Linked DNA regions of Homo sapiens: region 1 is linked to region 2. A link means that fine-mapping ties the variant in region 2 to the expression of a gene that starts in the linked region. Tissue or cell type: whole blood. Region 2 holds a variant in brackets; the other region holds the start of a gene. All regions are shown on one strand. Distances are between the middles of the regions.

Region 1 (8,099 bases), 54 kb after region 2:
GATCCACATGTAGGCCTGGAGCGGTGGCTCACGCCTATAATCCCAGCAATGTGGGAGCCCGAGGTGGGTGGATCGACTGAGCCCAGGAGTTCAAGACCAGCCTGGGCAACATGGTGAAACCCCTATCTCTACAAAACATTTAAAAATTAACTGGGTATGGTGGCTTACACCTGTAGTCCCAGCACTTTGGGAGGCTGAGGCTGGTGGATCACTTGAGCCCAGGAGTTTTGAGACCAGCCTGAGCAACGTGATGAAACCCTCATCTCTACAAAAAATTTGACCGGGCGTGGTGGCTCACACCTGTAATCCCAGTGCTTTGGGAGGCCAAGGCGGGTGGATCACCTGAGGTCAGGAGTTCGAGACCAGCCAGGCCAACATGGTAAAACCACATCTCTACTAAAAAATACAAAAATTAGCCGGGCGTGGTGGTGGGCACCTGTAATCCCAAAAACAAAAACAAAAAACTAACTGGGTTTGATGGCTCATGCTTGCAGGCCCAGCACTTTGGAAGGCTGAGGCAGGAGGATCGCTTGAGCCCAGGAGTTTGAGACCAGCCTAGGCAACATGGCGAGACCCTGTCTCTACAAAAAATACAAAAATTAGCTGAGTATGGTGGCGCACACTTGTAGTCCCAGCTACTGCTACTCGGGAGGCTGAGGCGGGAGGATTGCTTGAGCCCAGGAGTCAAGGCCGCAGTGAGCTGTGATTGCAACACTACATTCCAGACTGGGCAACAGAGCGAGACCCTGTCTCAAATAAAAAAAAACCATCCACAGGTAGCCGCAGCCCCCCAGGCTGACCCTGACCCTGTTGAAGCGGGGGCCACTGGACAACAGAGAAAACGAAGAAAGAGCTCAGGAGTGGGCCGTCACGTTGCCATCCCAGAGGCCAAGAGGACACAGCTCCAGGAAGCCCCGTGCTTCTCGGGCTGAGAACCCAACTGGTCTCCTGCCCTCACCAGGGGGACGAGGGAGGCATCCAGCAGCCAACACCTGGAGGACGTTGTGCAAAACCCATTGCCAACTTCCCGCACCCAGGTCCCCAAACCCAGCCTGCCACGTCTCCCAGCAGGCAAGGAAGAACAAACTGCGGGGCAGCCGAGAAATGAGCTGTTTCCTTCCTTCTGCCACCTCACCAGGCTGGAACCCAACACGGTGTCTGTGGCGAGATTCTGGCTGGAGTCGTAAGAAAGAGTTCTAAGAACCTTTCAACAGGTTCAGGCAAATTTTCTTTAGAGAACAAACTAAAGCATCGTCCTAGAGTGACACGAAGCTGACAAATTTGCATCTCAATCAGCCGGACACTGCTCAGGCTTTCACAAGTCTAATTCAATAAATTCAAAAATGGCCTATCTGCTTCTCTGCAATTCAGCCATGCACCAAGTTTGAAAATGTTAGACTGAAGCAGAAACCTTCACCCTAACTTCGCCAGGCACTCCCAGACGAGCCAAATGCGGGGATTTCTGGCCTGAAAGAAAACTGGTGATGCAGACTCCAAGAATCAAGGAGCAGTGTGACCAGAGAGATAAGCTGTGTGGAATCAGCAGCCTTCCCGCCCAGAACGTGGGCTCAGCATGTTTGCCAGATAATAAGAAAAACCAAAATTGGAGGCAGGAGCAAAAGTTCGGGATAAGAAGTTGATGTTCAACCCACAATCCTGACCCTTCACCTTCACTTTGGTTTAGTGGAGTTACCTGTCAAGTCTGCCCAGGGCTTAAAACACCAACTCAGCACTGCGCTGGCACAATCTCTGGGACTCCTCCCACTTAGACAGAGGAGGAAGCTGAGGTTGAGGCAGGAATGAAAGGACCAGACCCAATTCTGCCAAAACCATACAATCAATTAAATCCGTGGACATTCTATTAAAAAAAAACAAAAAACAAAAAACAAACAAAAAACACCTAGAATCTGACCTTCCGACATCATGGTGGGTTAAAAAAAAAACACACAAAAAAACACCTGCCCACAACAGTTCTCTGGTCTGGGTGAGACACTAAAAGCTTTCTCTGGGGACGATGACTTTTTTTCTGCTTTTTTTTTTTTTTTTTAAACCCTGTGTCCAGCCTGAAAGAGCCCACCAGGGAGGCAAGCAGGAAGGGTCACGATCTCTAAGGGGGGAGAGAGGAAAGGAGAGGAAGAAGTAAACACTCCAACCTGTGCCTTTCGGGGACAGGCATTAATCTCCTAACAACTCTTGGCCAAAGCAGAAAGCTTGTTCAGGGAACAAGGTCTGACTCTTCCCAACTCCCAAGATTTCTTGCTGATGTGGGGAAAGACCTGCCAAGAACCCTTAGGCTATTAGGAAATATTTTTGAGTGGCTAAAGGCTAAAGGTTAGTTATAAATGATATACTTTCTGTCCTCTCCCCGCGGCCTCTGCATTCTCCTGCTTTCTCCTGCCCTGAACCTCTCCAGCTAAGCCTCCCTCCCTAGAGACTGGGACACACAGGAATCTCCGGGGCAGATCAGAGAAGGGAAACAGGGAGGCTTCCACAAAGGATTACACCCAGCATGAGCTGGTCCAAAGCTTTCTCTTCCTGCAAAGAGCTCTAGAAAGAAAAGGCCTGCTGCTGGGGATTCAGGAAGTCAAACCTGGGCTACCTCCATCTAAGGGCACTCTAGCACTGGCGACAGGGATTATGTGAGCTCAGCTATTATGCAGCTACCGTTGGGATCAAGGAGAAGGCAGAGGGAAAATTTCCTGTCAAGGTTGCCTAAGAAGGAGGGTAGGAGGCTAGAGGCTGGGGGCTGCTGTGGCCCTCCTGTGGGGCTGAATTTACTGCCCTGTAGTCATCAGGACCCTCCAACAGGGTATGAAGGTGTGAAGGTAAGTGTGTGTTGGGTGGTGCAGATGTCATGTAGAGAAGCATCCTCAGCCTGCCTTCAGCAATTCCAGTGACAAGGCAAAGAGGAGAGAACAACCCTAGCATCATTTCCATAAACGTTCCTTTCTTCTCTTCCCCTTCATCCCCATGGGGTTGGAAAGCCACGGAGATGTCCTCAGAGCCCGTGGGGGAAATGTCCTTTGGAGAATCATAAGGCAGCAAAAATAGACAAGAAATTGTGTCCAGCAAGCACTTAGGAGACTCCACAATGGCCTGAGGAACGTCTAGATTCTAGATGAGCCCTCCCTGGGGTGGAGGCAAGGCCACTTCCTCTCCTGCTGCACCCCAGCCCCTTAATCTGGAGTTCCTCTTTCTCACAAGCAGACAGCAACATGTTTACTACCAGCCAAGCTATGTTCCAGGGCTGGGAGGAGAGGAGAGCAGTCCAGCACTGTTCGTAGCGGGTGGAAGGAACACCCTGGACAGCAGGTGGGGTTCTGGGTGGATGGCAGGCCCAGGCTCTGCGGCCTTGCGCAAGACAGATCGCTCTGAGCCTCGATGTCTTCGTCCACAAAACAGGGGCAATGACAAGTACCCGGCAGGGCTGGGTGAGGATCAGATGGGCCTTCTGATACCCTAGAGGCACTGGGCAATGCGGTGCTGTGGCTCGCTAGGTCTTCGCCCCCATCCCGCCCCCTCCCAAAGCCCCAGCTCCAGGAGCCCCCCGCAACCCCAGGCGCTTGTCTCACCTGGCTCGGTACACAGGTAGGAGTAAAAGCCCTCTGACTTGAGCATGATGAGCAGCGAGCCCCAGCCCAGGAGGACTGCCGAGAAGAGGAGGTTCTCCAGCACGGCCGTGCAGGCCATCCACCAGCGGCGCCGATGGGCAGTGGCCAGGGTGGGCGCCATGGTGCGGCGCGGCGCGGCTCCGGCTCCGGCTCCGGCTCTGCACCACCTGCGCACAGAACTCGGCGTCAGCGGCCGGCCCTTGCCCAGCCCCTGCGGCCGCCCCCAGCAGCCCCGACCGCTGCCGCAGGGCTCGGGATTGCCACCCCTCCCCGGCCGCGGCGGCCGGTGCGCGCAGCAGAGGAAGCGAACCCCAGCCCTGCCCGGACCTGGGACACCCCGAGCCCGCGGCCGGCTCGTACCGCTGCCCTCCGCTACGACAGAGCCGCCCCGGCCAGGCAGGGAGACGTCTCCCGCAGCTCACTCCGAGGTAAACTGAGGCATGGAGGCAAGAAGGGGCTAACGCATGCTCAGGGCCGTGGAACTAGTCCTGGCCTGCAGCAGGACTGACATCGCCTGGGGCCAGCATGGAACGCAGCGTGAGGTGGGCAGGGGCAGATCCGAGGGCTGCCTCTCCCAGGGACCCTGACAGGTGCCCTCCCGCCCGCGCCCGAGACCCTTCCCCAGAGCTGGTTTCTTCAACCACAAGATCAGCGCCCAGACCTACGGAACGGCCCGCCCCGGCGCGCTCATTGGCCGGACGGCGCAGGAACTGCCGCGCCATTGGCCGCCGTCTAGGTCGCTAGGCGCTGCGGCCACGCGAACCCAGCGTGGGAGACGAGGAGCCGGTTCAAACCGGTGGCGCGAGCCAGCCGCGCGACCCCCATCTCGGGCGTTCCCCCGGCAACTCGCCCGTTTCCATGGCCTCGGACCCCCGCGCCTCCATTCCCCAGCCCGCATCTGTTCGTCATCTCTTCCCTGGCGGCCCCTCATCGCTCCATCTCTCTCCTCGTTCCCACGTTTTCTCCCTACGCCCCTTCGGCGGCCGCTTCTGCCCCCGCGCCCTCGCCCCGGCCGCGATCCCCTCCCTGCTGCAGCTCACCCGGCTCCTCCGGCGTGTGTCGGGCCCGCCCGGCGCCTTTTCTGCCCTCTTTTATTCCAGCCCTTTTATTCCGACCCCAAGAAGAAAACACTGCCGCCCGCTGATTGGCTGAGCGGGGCTGGAAACAGGCGTCGACCAATCAGCAGCCAGCCCCCCGCCCGCCCCGCCGCGAGCAGAAGCCGGTTCCGGCCGGACTCGGAGACAAACAAGAGAGATGGGGGACGGGAGGGGCCTGGGCGCTGCGGGCCGGGCCTCGGCTTTGCAGCCTTCAACCCGAGTCACAGCGCGGCCGGGAATCCCCGGCGACATCGCCCCGCGGCCTCTCCAGCGGCCTGACCCTGCGAGGCTGGGGCTCCGGCTCCGCGTCCCGGCCCCCAGCGGACTCCCCCCAGAAGCCGCCGGGCCACCAGCGCCCCCAGCCGGGCTCTCCCGCGGCCGCCCCGCCGTCCCCAGCTGCCCCCTGCGCGCGGGTCACCACGCCCAGATGCGCCGGCTCCGCACGGTGGTTCCACTCTCGAATCCCCACCCCGCCTCCTCCCCACGCAGCGCCGCCGTCCCCGCCGCCTCGGGCTTTGGGTCCTGGTTCCTCGCTCCCCCGCCCCGGTGGTTCCCGTCCCGGCGTATTCGGGGCCTGGGATCCCGGACCCGGTCCAGCCGTGGCGCCCCCCGCTGATGCACCGACCCCTTCCCCTCTCCCCGGTGGCGTCTGCCCGGTCCCTGGAAGTTGGCCCTTGGAAATCTGCAAGGGGATTTGGGGCTGGTCTGTCCCGTCCTAGGATGGGGTCTCCTGAGCTCCCCCCATCAGACTGACCTTTCTCCGCCCGTGTTCACGCACTGCTCGGTCCTCCGGGGACCCTCCACCCTTGATCGTCATCTGGGTGCTCCCTGCCCGCGCTGGCCACCTTCACCCCGTTCCCCGTCCCTTTCAGGGAAGGTCCCCTCTGCAGGGCGATGCTACGGGCCACGTCCGCCAGCTGGTACAAGCTAGGGAGGGTTCGAGGGGGCTCCGGGTCCCCGTCTGATAAGCCCGGGCTCCGAAAGCTCAGCTCCCCGTCTTCGTCCCCCGGATTCGAGGCACTAACCCGACCCGGGAAGACCCTCTGACTGCCCCAGAATCGCCTTGGTCACCCTGGCTCGCTCCGGGGGGCTGGCTTAGCACCCCAGGGCTGCCGCGCGGTGTCCACGTCTGGAATCCCAGCGGTTTGGGAGGCTAAGGTCGGAGGGCCACTTGGGGACAGGAGTTTGAGACCAGCCTGGGCAGCATGGCGAGAACCATCTCTACCAAAATAAAAACCAAAAATAAAACCCCACCACCACCCCAGGGCTGTGGGAGCCCCAAACGCCTCTTGCTCCACCTGCCCCAGTCCGAGTGTGCCCCCTACTGTCTAGAATCCGCCCGGGCCACCTGGCGAGGGCAACCTCCCCCAGACAACGCTTGGAGCTGTCAGCCTGCTGGGGGGCGGCTCCAGCTGGTAGCCTACCCGGTTCCTCACCCTGTGGAACCCTTCCCACTCCCAAGGTTTCAACTGCCATCTGAAAAATCTCTTTCTTCACCCTTCCCTCCTCTTTGAGCAGCCTGACGGCGCTGCAGGGCTCAAACATGCCTCAAATATCCCCCAGAACTGTCCTCCACATTTTCTCTCAGATAACCATACTACTACTGTCTACTGAAGTTAGATACCAAGAACCCTGTCTTTTTTCTTTTTCTTTTTTTTTTTTTTTTTTTGAGACAGGATCTCAGGCACCCAGACTGCTGGAGTGTGGTGGCATGATCATAGCTCACTGCAGCCTCGACCTCCTGGGCTTAGGTGATCCTCCTGCCTCAGCCTCCCAAGTAGCTGGGACCACAGGTGCATGCTACCACACTTGGCTAATTTTTGTATTTTTTGTACAGATAGGGTCTTGCCCTGTTGCCCAGGCTGGTCTTGAAGTCTTGGGCTCAAGTGATCCTCCCACCTCAGCCTCCCAAAGTGCAGGGATTACAGGCATGACTCACAGTGCCCTGCTGAGAACCATCCTTTCATCAGACATTTGTTAGGCAGTCGCTGTGATTCTGCCTCTCCCTCACCGCATCCCCATCAAACTGATACAGCTGTATCTCCTACATATTTACCTAATCGGTCCATCTGTGCCCTTAGGCCCGCAACTACTGTTGTTGAGCCACCTTCAGATTTCAGTTCCTCAAATCCAGCCCCCATCTCATCCCAGGGCACTAAGGGAAATGTAAATGTGACTTCTGCCAAAATCCTTCAGAAACTATTATTTGTAAAACAGGATAAAGTTCCAGTTCCTGGCTGGGCACGGTGGCTCACACCTGTAATACCAGCACTTCGGGAGGCTGAGGCGGGCAGATCACTTGAGGTCAGGAGTTAAAGACCAGCCTGGCCAACATGGTGAAACCCTGTCTCTACTAAAAATACAAAAATGGCTGGGCGCGGTGGCTCACGCCTGTAATCCCAGCACTTTGGGAGGCCGAGGTGGGCAGATCACAAGATCAGGAGTACGATACCAGTCTGGCCAAGATGGTGAAACCCTGTCTCTACTAAAGAAACAAAAAATTAGCTGGGTGTGGTGGCGCACACCTGTAATCCCGGCTACTCTGGAGGCTGAGGCAGGAGAATCACTTGAACCTGGGAGGCGGAAGTTGAAGTGAGCCGAGATCGTGCCACTGCACTCCAGCCTGGGCAACAAGAGCGAAACTTTGTCTGAAAAGAAAAAAAAAAAAAAAGATCTGGGTGATGTGGCACACGCCTGTAATCCCAGCTACCTGGGAGGCTGAGGCAGGAGAATTGCTTGAGCTGGGGAGGCAGAGGTTGCGGTGAGCAGAGATTGTGCCACTGTACTCCAGCCTGGGCAACAAAGCGAGACTCCGTCTCAAAAAAATAAACAAAATTTAAAAGTTCCAGTTCCCCAATTTGACCCACACAGGCTCCTCCCTCTCCCTCCCTCTGAAGGACATCTGACCTGCCTGGTCCCCGATGCTCCAGTCACATGGAATTGCCTGTGGTTTCTGCACCTGCTGTTCTCTCTCCTCTAGCTCGCGACATAGCCTCATTTTGGACGGCACCTCCGCTGGGAAGCCTTCCCTAACCACTCCCCATTAATACTGTTCACTTTATTTGTCCACTGCTGGCATTGTTTTATAATTAGCTATTCGTCTGTTTGCCTTCCTCTCTAATTGACTATGAACTCTTTGGGGGCAGGACGGTGTCTTATTCAACTTTGTATGACCAGCCCTTGATAGAGAAGCAAGCACAAAGCAGTTGCACAATATGAGTTTGTGGAATGAAAACATGAACTCCTGAAAAGGGGCAAATGGCCAGGTGCGGTGGCTCACACCTGGAATCCCAGCACTTTGGGAGGCTGAGGTGGGTGGATCACCTGAGGTCAGGAGTTCGAGACCAGCCTGGCCAACATGGCAAAACCCCATCTCTACAAAAAGTACAAA
Region 2 (8,099 bases):
AAAACGATGCTACCATTGTTTTTTTTTTTTTTTTTGAGACGGAGTCTCGCTCTGTCGCCCAGGCTGGAGTGCAGTGGCGGGATCTCGGCTCACTGCAAGCTCCGCCTCCCGGGTTCACACCATTCTCCTGCCTCAGCCTCCCAAGTAGCTGGGACTACAGGCGCCCGCCACTACGCCCGGCTAATTTTTTGTATTTTTAGTAGAGACGGGGTTTCACCGTTTTAGCCGGGATGGTCTTGATCTCCTGACCTCGTGATCCGCCCGCCTCGGCCTCCCAAAGTGCTGGGATTACAGGCGTGAGCCACCGCGCCCGGCCAAATGCTACCATTGTTAAGTGCCAGGCGTCCCACCATGCGGGTCTTCACTGCGTATCCACGTAGCTGCACCACGCAGGCATTCTTTCCTCCCTTTTGCAGATGATGGCACCAAAGTTCAAGACTCGCCCAGGGCCACCAAGACAGTCCTCTAGACTTTGGTCTTCCCTCCTTGCCTCCTCGGCCTGGGGTGGTGGCGCCTCGGTCTGAGAAGGGTCGAGGTCTGGGTGCTGCTAGTGGCCCTGGCTCAGTCTCAGAGCTGCCCGGAGGGGGTGAGGATGGCTAACTTAAGGAGCACAGGCAGAGGCTTCCTGCTGGCAGGAAGAGGGCTGAGCTGCGGAAGGCCACCCAGGTGGAGTGTGCTGCACCTCCTTCAGTGGCCTTCAGGAGCTCTGTCCTCACCCAGGGATTGGGGTGAGTCAGGGCATGGGGAAACAGGCTCACAGAGCCCACCTGCTCACCCTGACCACCCCACCCCAGGGGACCCCAGGCTCCTAACTCTCAGAATCCCACAGTCTGTATTGGCGGAAGACGGGCTGGCACCCTTGAGTTAGGCCCCCAGTCGTTGGCACAGATAAGGGGAGCTGCTGCTGAAGGAGCCCGACGGCTGATTCTGTGGAGGCTTCTCAGAGCTCCTGGCAGGAGCCCCTCACCGCAGGAGGCCCACAACCCCTCCCAGCTGCATATCGGCTCACATTCACGCGGCTGCCACACAAGTGCGTCGGAAACTCCACTTGGCTGAACGTGATTGTGCTGCTGTCTGGGACAGTCTTATGCACGTGAGCCCAATACTGGATGTCCCGCCATTTTCAGCCCTGGGGCCTATGGCAAAGTGACGCCCCCCTCGGAGTGCACGGCAGGCAAGGAAGGTTTAAACGGAAGTTCTGACCAGGACGATGCTGGGTGCAAGAGGGGACGGGGATGGAGCAAAACAGAAAGGATCCACCAGGGCCTGCAACCACGTCTTTGGCCCCGGTGAGGGGTGGGACCTTGTGTATAGGTCCAGGCAGCAGCAGCTGCAGACAGAGGCCTAGAGGGTTTGGAGAAGGCCGACCACAAAGACACGCCTAGACCCCAGAGTCTAGTGAGGAGAGGGACTGGGGGCAGTGTTTCGGCAGCAGACCCAGACCCAGACTCAGACCCAAGCCCCCCTCCTCACTGATCAAAACCCCAAGGGCAGGGAGCCCTTCCTGCTCCTTCCCGCCAGAGCCTGGAGGATGAGGGGCAGACGGGAGGCCCGGCCACTGGTGCCTGCTCCTTTGATCAGCTGTAGTCCCTTCCCCTTCACAGGGCACTTGTCTTGCTGGTTGGGGTCACCAGGGATTGCTCCCCCAAGTACCCATCAGCCTCCAGGGCCCAAATGATTCCATGCAGTAGCTCTCTCCCCCTCTTCTGAGAAGGCTCTTGGCTCCCAGAAACGGAAACCATGCCTGGGCCTGCTCCCCTTCCTTGGGCTGTGACCCCCCTGCCACAGAGGCCCCCCCCCCGCCACAGAGGTCCCCCCTGCCACAGAGGTCCCCCTGCCACAGAGGCCTGGTGGCCCCTGAGCTGCTGCTCCGAGTGGAATGTCCTGGTCTAGAGGCCCTTGGCTGCTCCAGTGTCTTAAGACCCATATATGAGTGCTGGCTCTGACCTTGAACAAGCTCCTCCATCGCTCCAGGCCTCGTTTTTCAGGTGTATATGATGATAGTATCTCTAGGCCTCGTTTTTCAGTTGTAAAGCAGGGATGATCATATGTGTTTAACTCCCAGATTGTTATCAAGTCAAGGACAACAATAGGAAAACATGTCACCTGTCAGCTCCACACAAGGCAAAGTAGGATGGGTGACCCCTGACTAGGGGGTGGGAGTGCAGGGGGCACCCGACCCATCTGGCCAGCCACAGCCTCTGTACCCTGCTCGCATTTTCAGGCCTCAATCCCCAAGCACTGTTGGCCCTGGACTGTTTCCCCCCCTCAATTCTGTTTCTCAATGCCTGCTTCTTCCCAGTAAGTGCCACACCCTGAGGGTGGGTGGGAGAGTGAGGCAGCACTGCCCACTTTGGCTGGGACTGGGCACTGCTGGGGACAGCACGGGCCACGTCTTCCCCATCTCAAGACTGGCTTTTTGGCTAGGCATTGTGACTCACGCCTGTAATCTCAGCACTTTGGGAGGCTGAGGTGGGAGAATTGCTTCAGCCCAGGAGTTCCAGACCAGCCTGGGCAAAATAGCAAGAATTCATCTTTATGAAAAAGAAAAAAAAAATTAGCCAGGCATGGTGGCACACACTTATAGTCCCAGATACTTAGGAGGCCGAGGTGGGAGGATCCCTTGAGCCCATGAGTTGGAGGCCGTGGTGAGCTATCAGTTGCACCACTGCACTCCAGCCTGGATGGCAGAGCAAGACCCCAACTCAAAAAAAAAAAAAAAAAAAAAAAGGCGGCCTTTTCCCAGCTGGCAGCACCCTGGCTAGTTAGGGTTTCTCCGAATCTGCAACTCCTGTGTGATGGCGGGTCTCAAATGCTGGCAGCAGAGTCACCGGTCAGCGGCAAGACCTGGAGTCTCCATTTGGAACCAGCACCCGGGAGCCTCTGCTGGGGGTGATCATGGAGCCGCACGTGGAGGCTGGTGGCTCTGATGGTTCGAGCCGTTCCTCGGCAGCACAGCACACCCGCTCCTGAGGAGCCACGGAGCTCATGAGCGTTGGCAAAGTGCTGTCAGTGCTGGCTGTAAGGAAACAGGCTTGACTTTTAACTCAGCCTTTCCCAAACTTGACTATAATACTTTCTTGAAAATCAGAATAACCACTAACATCACAAAACGAGTGTTCTCAGGAGTGGGCATGTTTATCTCGTTCTCTTTTTTTTTTTCTTTTTGAGACGGAGCCTCGCTCTGTTGCCCAGGCTGGAGTGCAATGGTGCGATCTCGACTCACGGCAATCTCCGTCTCCCCGGTTCAAGCGATTCTCCTGCCTCAGGCTCCCGAGTAGTTGGGATTACAGGCGCACGCCACCACGCCCGATTAATGTTTATTTTTAGTACAGACGGGGTTTCTCCATGTTGGTCAGGATGGTCTCGAACTCCTGACCTCAGGTGAGCCTCCTGCCTTGGCCTCCCAAAGTGCTGGGATTATAGGCGTGAGCCACCACGCCCAGTCTTTTTTTAAATATTTGAGTGAAATAAAGCCTAGGAGATATGTGTTCCAGGCGCCCAAGCTGTTAATGTGGAGCTTGAATGTGGCCTGGACCTGCCCTTTCCTCTTCTCCTTTCATCCCCCTCCCTGCCGCCCACATCCTGAACTGCTCTGAGCCTGCAGAAGAACCCAGCGGGAATCTTCAGGGTTGTGGAAGGGTGTAGGGATGGAAAGGGACCAGGATTCGCCTGTTTGGCTGGGAAAATCGGTAGAGGAGGGTGGCTCACACTTCTAAGATGTCTGCACAAGCCCAGTTTGTTTGGGGGTTGGGGAGGAAGGTCTTTTCCTGGCCCACTGTCCCTCCCGAGTCAGCAGTCCCCCAGAGAGACGAAGAGCAGCTGGGCACGGCTGGAGCTGGTCGGTGGCAGAGAATCTTGTCCTGCCTTTTCTTCTCAAGCTCAAAATAGGCACATGCAGCTATTAACTGATATGCCAGAAGGGGCATCCCTTACCCGGAGGAAAATGGATTTATTGCTTTATAAAAAAGAAGTCTAATAAAACTGAAGAGAAAATAACTAAAAATCCAAACACAACTCACCCCTCTAAGCACGCCCAGGAGGTCTCAAGACACACTTCTGGGGGCAGTCAAGGTGGGCGGGTTGGTGGGCCAGGCGGACGGGCCTCCCCCGTCATCAGCTCCAGGGCCCCACGGAGCCCGCCGGCAGGGGGTGCTGTGGGCCTGTGGCCTTGGACAAGCTCCTGGCCCCACGCCAGGATGGCTCCTGGGCACTGGCCCAGCTGCAGGCCTGGCGGCTCCCGCCTGGTCAGTGGGGATAAGGGCTAACTCCTAGAGCCCACCCCGACCCCACACACACCTCGGACCCACCCACGTCCCCACCCCGGCCTGGACCTCCACGTCTGCCGGCCACAGCCTTTCGTCCACCTCCACAAAAGCAGCTGTGTGTATGTACGGGGTGCCCTGGCGGCGGTCCTCAAATTCCCTTCAGGTGGCAGACAGAACGAGGGTGACAGTGAAAACGTGT[C/T]CGCGGCATTGGCCCTCGGGGAGGAGGCGAGGGGTCCACCCAGCCCGCTAAACCCTCTCCAGGGCATAAGCCAGGTGGGGCTTCTCCACCGGCCTCCAACGGGTGGGCAGGCCCTGGACAGGCGACAGGGGGCTGGAATTACAAAGGAATTAGCACCGACAACAGGAAGCGGGTCCTTCCTTCCTCAGGCAGCCTCAGGCTGGCCGGGGAGGGGGTGGGGGCCAGGCGCGGGCGAGACAGTGCAAGCCTTTGTCCTCAGGCAGGTACGGCTGTGGGCATGCAGCCGAGGGGCAGGTGGCAGGCAGGGGATGGCAGCCCCCTCTGCTTTGGCAAGAGGCAGAATCCAGACACTGGCGGGAGAGCGCCTGCCTGCCGGGCGTTCCTGGCTCCTGCTGCAGGCACCACAGAGACCCCAGGCCCCGGGTCCCCGGGGGGCGGCAGAGCAAAGTCAGGGCAGCCCCTGCGTTCGGCAGGAGAAAACGCGCGTGTCCGGGGCCCTCTCCCGTCCTTCCACCACAGAGCTCCGAGGCAGGGCCCCGGGAGGGAGCGTGAACGCTGGCACGGAGACGGCGAAGGTCCTGGGGGTGCGTGGGGTACTCTGGAGGGGCAGGACAGGGGTCAGTCACTGAAGCACAGGCAGGAGACCGCAGTTCCGAGGCGGCAGCCACTACACGAAGGCCTCCTGGTTGGACGAGCCGTTGATTTTGAGGAAGAGTTTGTCATCCTCCTGCCTCTGCTGCAGCTGCCGCTCCAGCTGGCGCCGGTAGCAGATCAGGTAGAGCGGGAGGCAGAAGCCCAGCAGGCTGAGAAGGAGCAGCCCCACGTTCACCTGGGGAGGCAGGGAGGCCGCGCATCACAGGGCGTGGTGGTGCGCCGAGGCTGCAGACCCGCCCTCCACTCGGGTTTGGGAAAGGGGAGAAGGTCACGGGGTGGAAGGGGGAACGAAACAGGAAGGCCCACGAGGTCCCATATGCCAGCGTCCCGGTTCCCAACTCTTCACAGGCCATGTGGCCACCCTCAGGGCCTGGGCCCCCAGGAAACACGGGCTGATCTGAACCTCTGGGCTTGGAACAAGTTCCTGGTACCTGGTGAGGAAATCTGGCCCTCGGAGGTGGGGCGGGGACAGGAACTGTGTTCTTTTTTTTTTTTTTTTTTTTTTTTTGAGACGAAGTCTCGCGCTGTCGTCATTCAGGCTGGAGTGCAGTGGCGCAATCTCAGCTCACTGCAATCTCCGCCTCCCGGGTTCAAGTGATTCTCCTGTCTCAGCCTCCCGAGTATCTGGGATTACAGGCACCTGCCACCACACCTGGCTAATTTTTGTATTTTTAGTAGAGACCTGGTTTCACCATGTTGGCCAGGCTGGTCTTGAACTCCTGACCTCAAGTGATGCTCCCGCCTCGGCCTCTCAAAGTGCTGGGATTACAGGTGTGAGCCACCGCGCCCGGCCCAGGAACTCTGTTCTATTTCTCCCCAAATCAGGTCCAGAGAGGACATGTTCCTTTTCCTGCCTAGCCACCATTCACAAAGGGACTCTTAACCAATCCTAACCAACGCTCCCACATGTCCTCGGGGCCCTGAAGCCCCCGAGGGGGACCTTGCAGCTCGCAGTTAGCAGAAGGGGGCAGGCGCCCATGACCCACCATCCCCCGACCCCTCTTACCCACAGAGGGTCTCCCTGGAGAGGACCCATCATGGCCAGAAACAGCGGCTGCTGCAGAAGGGCGAAGAGCGCGCTGATCAGAGACTGCAGTCCCGTGAGGCTGCCGAACTGGGTGGAGGGGTACCTGCAGGGCAAGCGACAGCTCACAGCCATCCTGCCTCCTGGGCTTTGCTTGGCCCCAGGTGTCTGGTGACCCCGGGCTGCACCGTTGGTGCCAGAGAAGGGTGGGGTGCCAGCCCTCGGATTCCTTCCTGCTGGGCAGTTCTGTTTTTTTTTTTTTTTTTTTAAGATGGAGTCTTGCACTGTCGCCTGGGCTGGAGTGCAATGACACGATCTCGGCTCACTGCAACCTCCGCCTCCCCAGTCCAAACAATTCTCCTGCCTCAGCCTCCCTAGTAGCTGGGATTACAGGCGCCCGCCACCACATCTGGCTAATTTTTTGTATTTTTAGTAGAGACGGGGTTTCACTACGTTGGCCAGGCTGGTCTCAAACTCCTGACCTTGTGATCTGCCTGCCTCGGCCTCCCAAAGTTCTGGGATTACAGGCGTGAGCCACCGCGCCCGGCCCTGCTGGGTGGTTCTGCAAAGTGTTTCTCTTTGGACCAGCTCCAGGCCCCAGACTCTGGGGAGGGCCCACCCCACTCAGCTGTGCCCAGGGCCTGTGGGTGTCTGGCTGAGCCGAGTGGAAAGCGTGGTGCCAGCGGGGACCTGCGGTTTGGGAAACAGGCCCAGAGAGGAGTGTGGAGGCTGGGCTTGGCTCTGCAGTGCCCTCGTCCAGAGAAGCATTGAGTAATCGCGGAAACTCAGCACCACAGATCCCGCCCCCCTCCCTCAGACCCTGCCAGGACAGCCACAGCTTCCTCCAGGCCTGGGGAGGGGCAGGCGGAGGGCAAGCGGAGCTGGGATTACCCCAGGGGCTGTTGCGGGAATTGGGAGAGAGTTCCGGGCTAAATCTTAGCACATGTCAGGCTCTGCTGGCCCAGAGGTGGGAAAGGAATCCCAGCAACACATGAGCTGGTCCCACATCAGAGACTGTGGATGATGATGTTTGAGTTTCAGTTTTTGGGTCAAGGCCTGAGCCAGAGAAGAAGGAACCACTGTGGTTCCTTTTATGTTTCTGGGGCTTCTTGGAAAAAGATACAGGTTTCATTTTAGCCAGGGCTGGAGAAAGCTATGGCCAGAGCTGGGCGCACTGAGGCTCTGGATGGGCCCGTCTGGTGTATTCTGGACTCAGTCACCCATGTTGCTGCCCGTGATGAGGGCAACTGGAACTTCCGCATTTAGCTTCAGGCAGCCAGAACCTACCCATCCTTCCCAGTGAGCAGCCAGGGCCAGCCCCAGGACTCGGCTGTAGTGGCCCCTGAGGCCATAATGAGCTGCACAGGTGCCTGACCCTGGCTGGGGGAACTGACTTCGTGTTGAATGCCAAGGCTTGTGAGCACCCAACTGTCTGCCCACTGACCTGCTTCCCACGAGGTATGGCCTTTCCCTGAAACACCCAGCAGAAACCCTGGTACCTGTCCCCTGAAGCAGGAAGATGAGCCCTTCTGGGACAGGCTGACCCTGCCTCAGAGTCTCAGTCCCACCAGCAACCTCCCCCCGGCCATTCCCACACCCTCGCCCACCAGGCCACCTGCGGCTTCCAGGACTTACACGGCAGCGTACAGGCCCCCGACAGCGGAGTGGATGAATCCTCGCACGATTGTGTGCAGGATGAAGGAGAGGATCTGGGGGAGGAAAAGGCGACTGTGGGCATAAGGCCTTAAGGGACCGTCCCCTCAGCCCCCGCCCTCCAATTCCTGGGGGCCCTCACCCCAGGGGCAGTGTCAGCCTGGAGTTGGATCAACCCCATCCTCCGGAGCCAATTGTGAATTTTCAGAAATTTTGCAAGCCAGTCGTTAACACAGTCATTTTTTGTTTGTTTGTTTGTTTTGTTTTTTGTTTTGTTTGAGAAGAAGTCTTGCTTTGTCGC

What was found. PIP is the estimated chance that this variant, and not a neighbour inherited with it, causes the effect.
Region 1: SLC43A2 starts here. The variant in region 2 is fine-mapped to the expression of SLC43A2 in whole blood (TOPMed, PIP above 0.99).

Annotation. Positions count from the first base shown.
Region 1 is chr17:1,624,143-1,632,241 of GRCh38, forward strand. SLC43A2 (solute carrier family 43 member 2) reads right to left here and starts at 4,692. Exons shown (of 14, transcript NM_152346.3): 1 at 4,652-4,692; 2 at 3,573-3,778. The coding sequence starts at 3,732. RefSeq lists enhancers at 2,865-3,402, 3,403-3,940.
Region 2 is chr17:1,570,470-1,578,568 of GRCh38, forward strand. SLC43A2 (solute carrier family 43 member 2) reads right to left here. Exons shown (of 14, transcript NM_152346.3): 12 at 7,781-7,854; 13 at 6,128-6,251; 14 at 1-5,296. The coding sequence ends at 5,135. Among named protein-coding and RNA genes, the nearest start is that of PITPNA, 12 kb to the left of the region's middle. RefSeq lists enhancers at 956-1,791, 5,047-5,859, 5,860-6,671, 6,672-7,483, 7,484-8,099. The variant C/T (reference allele first, on the strand shown) is at 4,468.